2 linked regions of the Homo sapiens genome follow. Changing the gene in region 2 together with the main gene of any one other region gives a genetic interaction. Each region holds a gene or a part of one and is shown on either strand. Other genes may lie near its edges. The genes, in order: KEAP1 and EZH1.

The links.
Region 1: changes in EZH1 (region 2) and KEAP1 together harm fitness more than expected from each alone (negative genetic interaction), as found in Homo sapiens cells (one large-scale study listed by BioGRID).

What each region holds. Positions count from the first base shown.
Region 1 is NC_000019.10:10,496,677-10,500,491, forward strand, and holds part of KEAP1 (kelch-like ECH-associated protein 1), read right to left. Parts: intron 3,405-3,815; 5' UTR 3,358-3,404; coding exon 2,719-3,357; intron 1-2,718. UniProt on the Homo sapiens protein: Substrate-specific adapter of a BCR (BTB-CUL3-RBX1) E3 ubiquitin ligase complex that regulates the response to oxidative stress by targeting NFE2L2/NRF2 for ubiquitination.
Region 2 is NC_000017.11:42,738,226-42,742,040, forward strand, and holds part of EZH1 (histone-lysine N-methyltransferase EZH1), read right to left. Parts: intron 1-3,815.

The sequences.
Region 1 (3,815 bases), on a different chromosome or scaffold from region 2:
TGTAATCCCAGCTACTTCGGAGGCTGAGGCATGAGAATCGCTTGAACCCAGGACATGGAGGCTTGCAGTGAGCCGAAATCTTGCCACTGCACTTCAGCCTGGGCGATAGAGCCAGACTCAGTCTCAAAAACAAAAAAGGACTGGGCGGTGGGGGGCGGGCGTGGGCGCAGTGTCTCATGCCTGTAATCCCAGCACAGTTAGGGAGGCCAAGGCAGGCAGATCACCTGAGCTCAGGGGTTCGAGACCAGCCTGGCCAACATGGTGAAACCCCATCTGTACTAAAAATATTTTTTAAAAATTAGCTGGGCATAGTGGTAGGCACCTGTAATCCCAGCTACTTGGGAGGCTGAGGCAGGAGAATTGCTTGAACCCAGGAGATGGAGGTTGCAGTGAGCCGATACAGTGCCACTGCATGCCAGCCTGGGTGACAGAGTGAGACTCCGTCTCAAAAAAAAAAAAAAAAGTTGTCAGGCACTCGTCTATGTAATCAGTTTTAATCTAGTACCCCATGTTCATACAAACACAAGAAAGAAACACTGTATATGTTTCTCCTACTGTATAGACCACTTTCCTAGAAGCTGCAGGCCCTAGGACTAACGCCAGAGAACCCTGGGGCGTCTGATCAACCCCACATGTAACATAGAGGGTAGGAAAGAATCTATCCCTGAAGGAGAGAAATAGAGATCAGTGTAACATCCATCCCAGCTGGTACCAGCCAGTGGGGGACTTAGAAAATTTCCAGGAAGGAACACCAAGACATGGGACTCCCGAAGGCTTAGGGCCTGGGGCACTGCCCTGCTTGCCTAGGCTGAAGGGTAGTACTGCCTCATAGGACAGTTGGGAACAGTCAATGATGCAAAGGACATAAATCACTTAGAACAGGGGCTGGCCCACAGCAAGTGCTCAATAAACACTTCTTGGCCTGGTGTTGGTATGGTGCTTCATACCTGTAATCCCAACACTACGGGAGGCCAAAGCCAGAGGATTGTTCAAAGCCAGGAGGTTCGAGACCAGTCTCAGCAACATAGCAAGACCCTGTCTCTACAAAAAAATTTAAAAACTAAAAAATTAGCCATGCGTGGTGCTGCATACCTATAGTCCCAGCTACTCAGGAGGCTGAGATAGGAGGCCTCCTTGAGCCCAAGAGTTGGAGGCTACAGTGAGCTATGATGGCACCACTGTATTCCAGCCTGGGGACAGAGCAAGACCTCATCTCTTCAAAAACTTTTTCTTTTTTTTTTGAGACAGAGTTTCGCTCTTATTGCCCAGGCTGGAGTGCAATGGCGCAATCTCAGCTCACTGCAACCTCCGCCTCCCGGGTTCAAGCGATTCTCCTGCCTCAGCCTCCTGAGTAGCTGGGATTACAAGCATGAGCCACCATGCCAGGCTAATTTTGCATTTTTAATAGAGACGTGGTTTCTCCATGTTGGTCAGGCTGGTCTTGAACTCCCGACCGCAGGTGATCTGCCCACCTTGGCCTTCCAAAGTGCTGGGATTATAGGCATGAGCCACCGCGCCCAGGCTTTTTTTTTTTTTTTTTTGAGACAGAGTCTTGCTCTGTCGCCCAGGCTGGAGTGCAATGGTGCGATCTCGGCTCACTGCAACCTCCACCTCCCCGGTTCAAGCGATTCTCCTGTCTCAGCCTCTCGAGTAGCAGGGACTATAGTCACATGCCACTACACCCGGCTAGTTTTCTTTTTTTGTATTTTTATTAGAGATGGGGTTTCACCATATTGGTCAGGCTGGTCTCAAACTCCTGACCTCAGGTGAGCCACCCGCCTCAGCCTCCCAAAGTGCTGGGATTACAGGCGTGAGCCACTGGGCCCTGCCCTCTCTTGTCAATTTCTATAGATAATTTCCTTCACTGAGAAATGTGAAAACGAAACCAAAAACAGTATAAGGACATTGTGTGGACCAAAGAAAACATGACTAAGGTTCAGACTTACAGCTTGCAGCCTGTCACGGGTGTCCAATAAACATTTGCTGACTGCCCGAAAGGCTGGGCTACCCTAGGATTTGGCTGCTGTTCACTGCACTCTGCCCCACTTTGACCCCAGAGAAACCAGGGAGCCCAGAGACATATGAAGACCTCACCTTCCCCAGCTGTTCACCAGTCTCCCCACATGTGTAGACAAGGAACTCAGAACCCCAGTTGTTTTTTAATTTTTTTTTTTTTTGAAACTGAGTCTTGCTCTGTTGCGCAAGCTGGAGTGCAGTGGCTCGATCTCCACTCACTGCAACCTCCACCTCTTGGTTCAAGCGATTCTCCTGCCTCAGCCTCCTGAGCAGCTGGGACTACAGGCGCCCGCCACCAGGCCTGGCTAATTTTTATATTTTTAGTAGAGATGGGTTTTAGCTATGTGGGCCAGGCTGGTCTTGAACTCCTTACCTCAGGTGATCCACCTGCCTCGGCCTCCCAAAGTGTTGGGATTACAGGCATGAGCCACCACGCCCGGCCCCAGTTGTTTTTTGTTTGTGTGTTTGTTTGTTTAGAGACAGGGTGTCATTATGTTGCCTGGGCTGGTCTTGAACTCTTGGCCTGAAGCAATCCCCCCGCCTCAGCCCCTCAAACTGTGGAGACTACACCACCATACCCAGCCCAGAACCTCCTTTTTCTCCAGTTTCCTGCCTTGACATCTCAAGGGGAGACAGTGATGAGCACTCGTCCATCCCTGGTCCTTCTCCTGACACTGCCCCCAGCCCCACTTCCCCGCTCACCTCCCCAAAATGCATGTAGATGTACTCCCGGGCACGCTGGTGCAACTCCACACAGCCAATCTGCTCAGCGAAGTTGGCGATGCCGATGGCATTGCTGGGGTCCAGCTGCTGCACCAGGAAGTCACTGCAGGCACGGACAACGCTGTCGATCTGGTACATGACAGCACCGTTCATGACGTGGAGGACACACTTCTCGCCCATGGAGATGGAGGCCGTGTAGGCGAATTCAATGAGGCGCTCCATGACCTTGGGGTGGATACCCTCAATGGACACCACCTCCATGCCCTGCTCCCGCAGCCCGTTGGTGAACATGGCCTTGAAGACAGGGCTGGATGAGGCCAGCACCACCTTGTGGGCCATGAACTGGGCGGCCGGTGCATCCTGGTACTTGACCTGCAGTGTGACGTCACACAGCTGCTGGCTGAGCCGCAGCTCGTTCATGATGCCAAAGGCCTGCTTGGTATGATCCTCCAGGGTGTAGCTGAAGGTGCGGTTGCCATGCTGGGAGGGCGTCACCTCCGCCTTGCACTCAGTGGAGGCGTACATCACCGCGTCCCCTGCCCCCTCAGGGCACTGTGACTGCAGGGGCAGGAATCGGCAGCAGGCCCCAGCCCCGCTAGGCCTGGGATCTGGCTGCATGGGGTTCCAGAAGATAAGCAACACCACCACCTCTGGCACTCAGGGACCTGGAGGGGAGAGAGCACAGGGCAGAGGGCAGGGGTTGGGACTGGGCCAGCACCTGCCGGGCCTCGTTTTGCAAGATAAAGCAATTCCTAGGTCAGTTTTCCTGCAAAGTAGGTGAAGCAGAATCCATTTGCAAACTTGCAAACTTCCCCGACCTGATCAACCTGATTGGCCCAAGAGCCCATCTTAAAACATACATGAAGTCATGTCTCTCCCCTGCTCTGGATCCTCCAATGCCTCCCACAGTACCTAGTAAAACTGAACTCCTCAACAGCCTGCAAAGCCCTACGCAATTAGCCCCTGCCACCTCTTCCCTTTGATCACTCTGCTTCAGCAATCTGGCGGCCTTTCCCTTTCTAGAGCATGTTGAGCTCATTCCTTCATTTGCCTCACCATTTACTGGGCACCTACTG
Region 2 (3,815 bases):
AGACTGAGATCAGAATACAAAAGTTCCAAACTATTAAATTTTTTCATCTACATAAGGTGTCCCTTTGCAGAAACAGCTTCTTTGTCTTAGGGGCAAATTCAGTGTCTTTGATAGTTTCTCTTGAATAATAATTTTATTAACCAGCAAGGCTAAGTAAGCCTTTGGAGGCAGATGGCACTACAGATTTTTATTTTTTAATTTTATTTATTTGTATTTATTATTTGTATTTATTATTATTTTTTGAGACGGAATCTCGCTCTGCTGGGATTACAGACGTGAGCCACCGTGCCCAGTCTATTTTTTTTATTTTTTTTTGAGATGGAGTCTCACTCTGTTGCCAGGCTGGAGTGCGTTGGTGCAATAACAGCTCACTGCAACCTCTGCCCCAGCTAATTTTTGTATTTTTAGTAGAGACAGGGTTTCACCATCTTGGCCAGGCTGGTCTGGAACTCCTAACCTCAGGTAATTCACCCACCTTGGCCTCCCAAAGTGCTGGGATTACAGGCGTAAGCCACCGGGCCTGGCCTAGATTTTTTTTTTTTTTTTTTTTTTGAGAAGGAGTCTCACTCTGTCACCCAGGCTGGAGTGCAGTGGTGCTATCTCAGCTCACTGCAATCTCCACCTCCTGGGTTCAAGCGATTCTCTTGCCTCCACCCCCCCTGAGTAGCTGGGACTATGCTCGCCACCAAGCCGGGTTAATTTCTGTATTTTTAGTAGAGGCGGGGTTTCACCATGTTGGCCAGGATGGTCTCCATCTCCTGACCTCGTGATCCACCTGCCTCGGCCTCCCAAAGTGCTGGGATTACAGGCGTGAGCTACCACGCCTGGCCCCTGGCCTATATTTTTAAATATTTCATCCTATTCCTTTTTTGATTCATAGTGTAATTGAAACCTGAATGATAGGGGTGAACCTATCCCTGCAAAGAGCTCTAGTAACACACCTTTGGGTCATTCTGGTGATCACCAATTTCATCAACATTTCAATTAAAATCAATTCTGTGACTAGGTACACAGCCTGATCTCTCAGTTAGGATCTATAAAGCACATCTCTAATTTATACCCTCCAACTTCTCTGAGGTATTTTCATCTGTCATTAGTTTGAGCTTCTGGGCACTACACACAGAAAGAACCTTCCTAACAGGAACCTGTGACTCTGAATTCTAATTTAAAATAAAATTATAACATTAGTATTTCCTAGTGTTGCTTAATTAAGAGAATCAGATCAGCTGGGTGCAGTAGCTCACACCTGTAATCCCAGCACTTTGGGAGGCCAAGGCGAGTGGATCACCTGAGGACAGGGGTTCGAGACCAGCCTAACATGCAGAAACCCCGTCTCTACTAAAAATACAAAATTAGCCGGGCATGGTGGTGGATGCCTGTAATCCCAGCTACTCGGGAGGCTGAAGCAGGAGAATCGCTTGAACCCAGGAGGCAGAGGTTGCAATGAGCTGAGATCGTGCCATTGCACTCCAGTCTGAGCAACAAGAGTGAAATTCTGTCTCAAAAAAAAAATTAGATCGTATGCACTGGAGGTAATGGTAACAAAAATCTAAACAGGATTAGTTTTTTTTTTTTTGAGACAGAGTCTCGCGCTGTCGCCCAGGCTGGAGTGCAGTGGCGCGATCTTGGCTCACTGCAAGCTCCATCCCCCAGGTTCACGCCATTCTCCTGCCTCAGCCTCCCGAGTACCTGGGATCACAGGTGCCCACCACCATGCCCAGCTAATTTTTTGTGTTTTCAGTAGAGACAGGGTTTCACCATAAACAGGATTAGTTTTTATGAGACCCAAAGGAAAATGCTGGCTCACAGGATTTATAACTCTGGTTTAATTTTATTTCATTTTATTTTGTTTTTTGAGAAAGGGTCCCACTCTGCCGACCAGGCATGATCATAGCTCACTGCACTTCGACCTCCCAGGCTCAAGGGATCCTTTGGCCCCAGCCTCCCTAGTAGCTGGGACTACGGGCACATGCCACCATGCCTGGCTAATTTTTTATATTTTCAGTGGAGACAAGATCTTTTTTTTTTTTTTTGAAACGGAGTCTTGCTCTGTTGCCAGGCTGGAGTGCAGTGGTGCAATCTCAGCTCACTGCAACCTCCGCCTCCCGGGTTCAAGCGATTCTCCTGCCTCAGCCTCCCGCGTAGCTGGGACTACAGGTGCAAGCCACCACGCCCAGCTAATTTTTGCATTTCAGTAGAGACAGGTTTCACCATGTTGGCCAGGATGATCTCGATCTCTTGACCTTGTGATCCACCCGCTTCGGCCTCCCAAAGTGCTGGGATTACAGGCGTGAGCCACTACGCCCAGCCTACAAGATCTTGCTATGTTTCCCAGGCTGGCCTTGAACTCCTGACTTGAAGTAATCCCCCTTCCTCAGCCTCCCAAAGGGTTGAGATTACAGACATGAGCCACCGTGCCCAGTGAGAACGCTGACTTGGAAGAGTAAAAGCAATCTCCTAACAGGCTAGAGCCCTATCTTGACTGGTTCTGTACTGTGTCAGCCCAAAGTTTAATACTGTACTGTATTTAGTGCCTGCTCATATCATCCAATAAAAATAAGACTTTTTAGTCTATTTTGAATCAAATTATTCGGGTAGGTGAGTTAGAGAATAAAACACACTAAAGGTACTGAATTCCAACTACCCATTAAGTAACTCATGACTTTAGGGTGTAGTGTACTCAAGTCTCAACTGATGATTGACTGATAGACTAAGGAGTAGGAAAGAATCCAATATGTACACAGTTTGGACATAAAACAAAACAAAGAAAAAGCTGGGGACTTTCCAGAATGGAGAAGCACAATTTTTCTTTTTTTAACCTTTAACCCTTCCCCTCAATCCCAACCTATCTAATTATCTTCACTTTTCTCCACAAATTGTTTTCTCTTTTCTCTTTAGTTTATTCTATGTAGAAATGGAATTAGTGTGTTTTTAGTGTTGCTACCTCAAATCTTTTCTGGGACGCTACTAGTGAACAAAATAGAAATAGTGAACAAAGTGGAAACTGTTTTTGAGACAGGGTCTCCCTTTGTCGCCCAGGCTAGAGTACAGTGGTGCCATCTCAGCTCACTGCAACCTCCGCCTTCCAGGTTCAAGGGATTCTCGTTCCTCAGCCTCCCAAGTAGCTGGGATGACAGGTGTGGGATGCCCACGCCCAGCTAATTGTAGAAACGGGGTTTCACCGTGTTGGACAGGCTGGTCCCAAACTCCTGGCTTCAAGTGATCAATCCCTCGGCCTGCTCCCAAAGTGCTGGGATTACAGCTGTGAGCCACAACGTGGGGGGCCCAAAGTGAAACTTTTTAAACTTAATCTAAGACCAGAAAAAGATATACTTAATGACATGAATTGTTACATGTTTCATATAAACAGCAAATCAAAGGGAAGGAACTGTTGCCTACAGAGTAATGAAGCCAGGTTTCAGACCCTAGGAATTAAAAATAGACAAAATTAATATTTTGAATCGGTTTCTTATTTTGTTTTGAGACAGGGTCTTGCTCTGTTGCCCAGGCTGGAATGCAGTGGCTTGATCTCGGCTCACTGCAACCTCTGCCTCCTGGGCTCAAGCAATCCTCCCTACTCAGCCTCCTGAGTAGTTGGGACTACAGGCCCACACCACCAGGCCTGGCTAATTTTTGTAATGTTTTTGTAGAGACAGAGTTTTGCCATGTTGCCCAGGCTGGTCTCACACTTCTGAACTCAAGTGATTCGCCCACCTCGGCCTCCCAAAATACTGGGATTACAGGCATGAGCCACAGTGTCCAGACTTAAATTGGTTGTTTGAAGGTATCATCCAAAGGCAAATATATAAGAAACA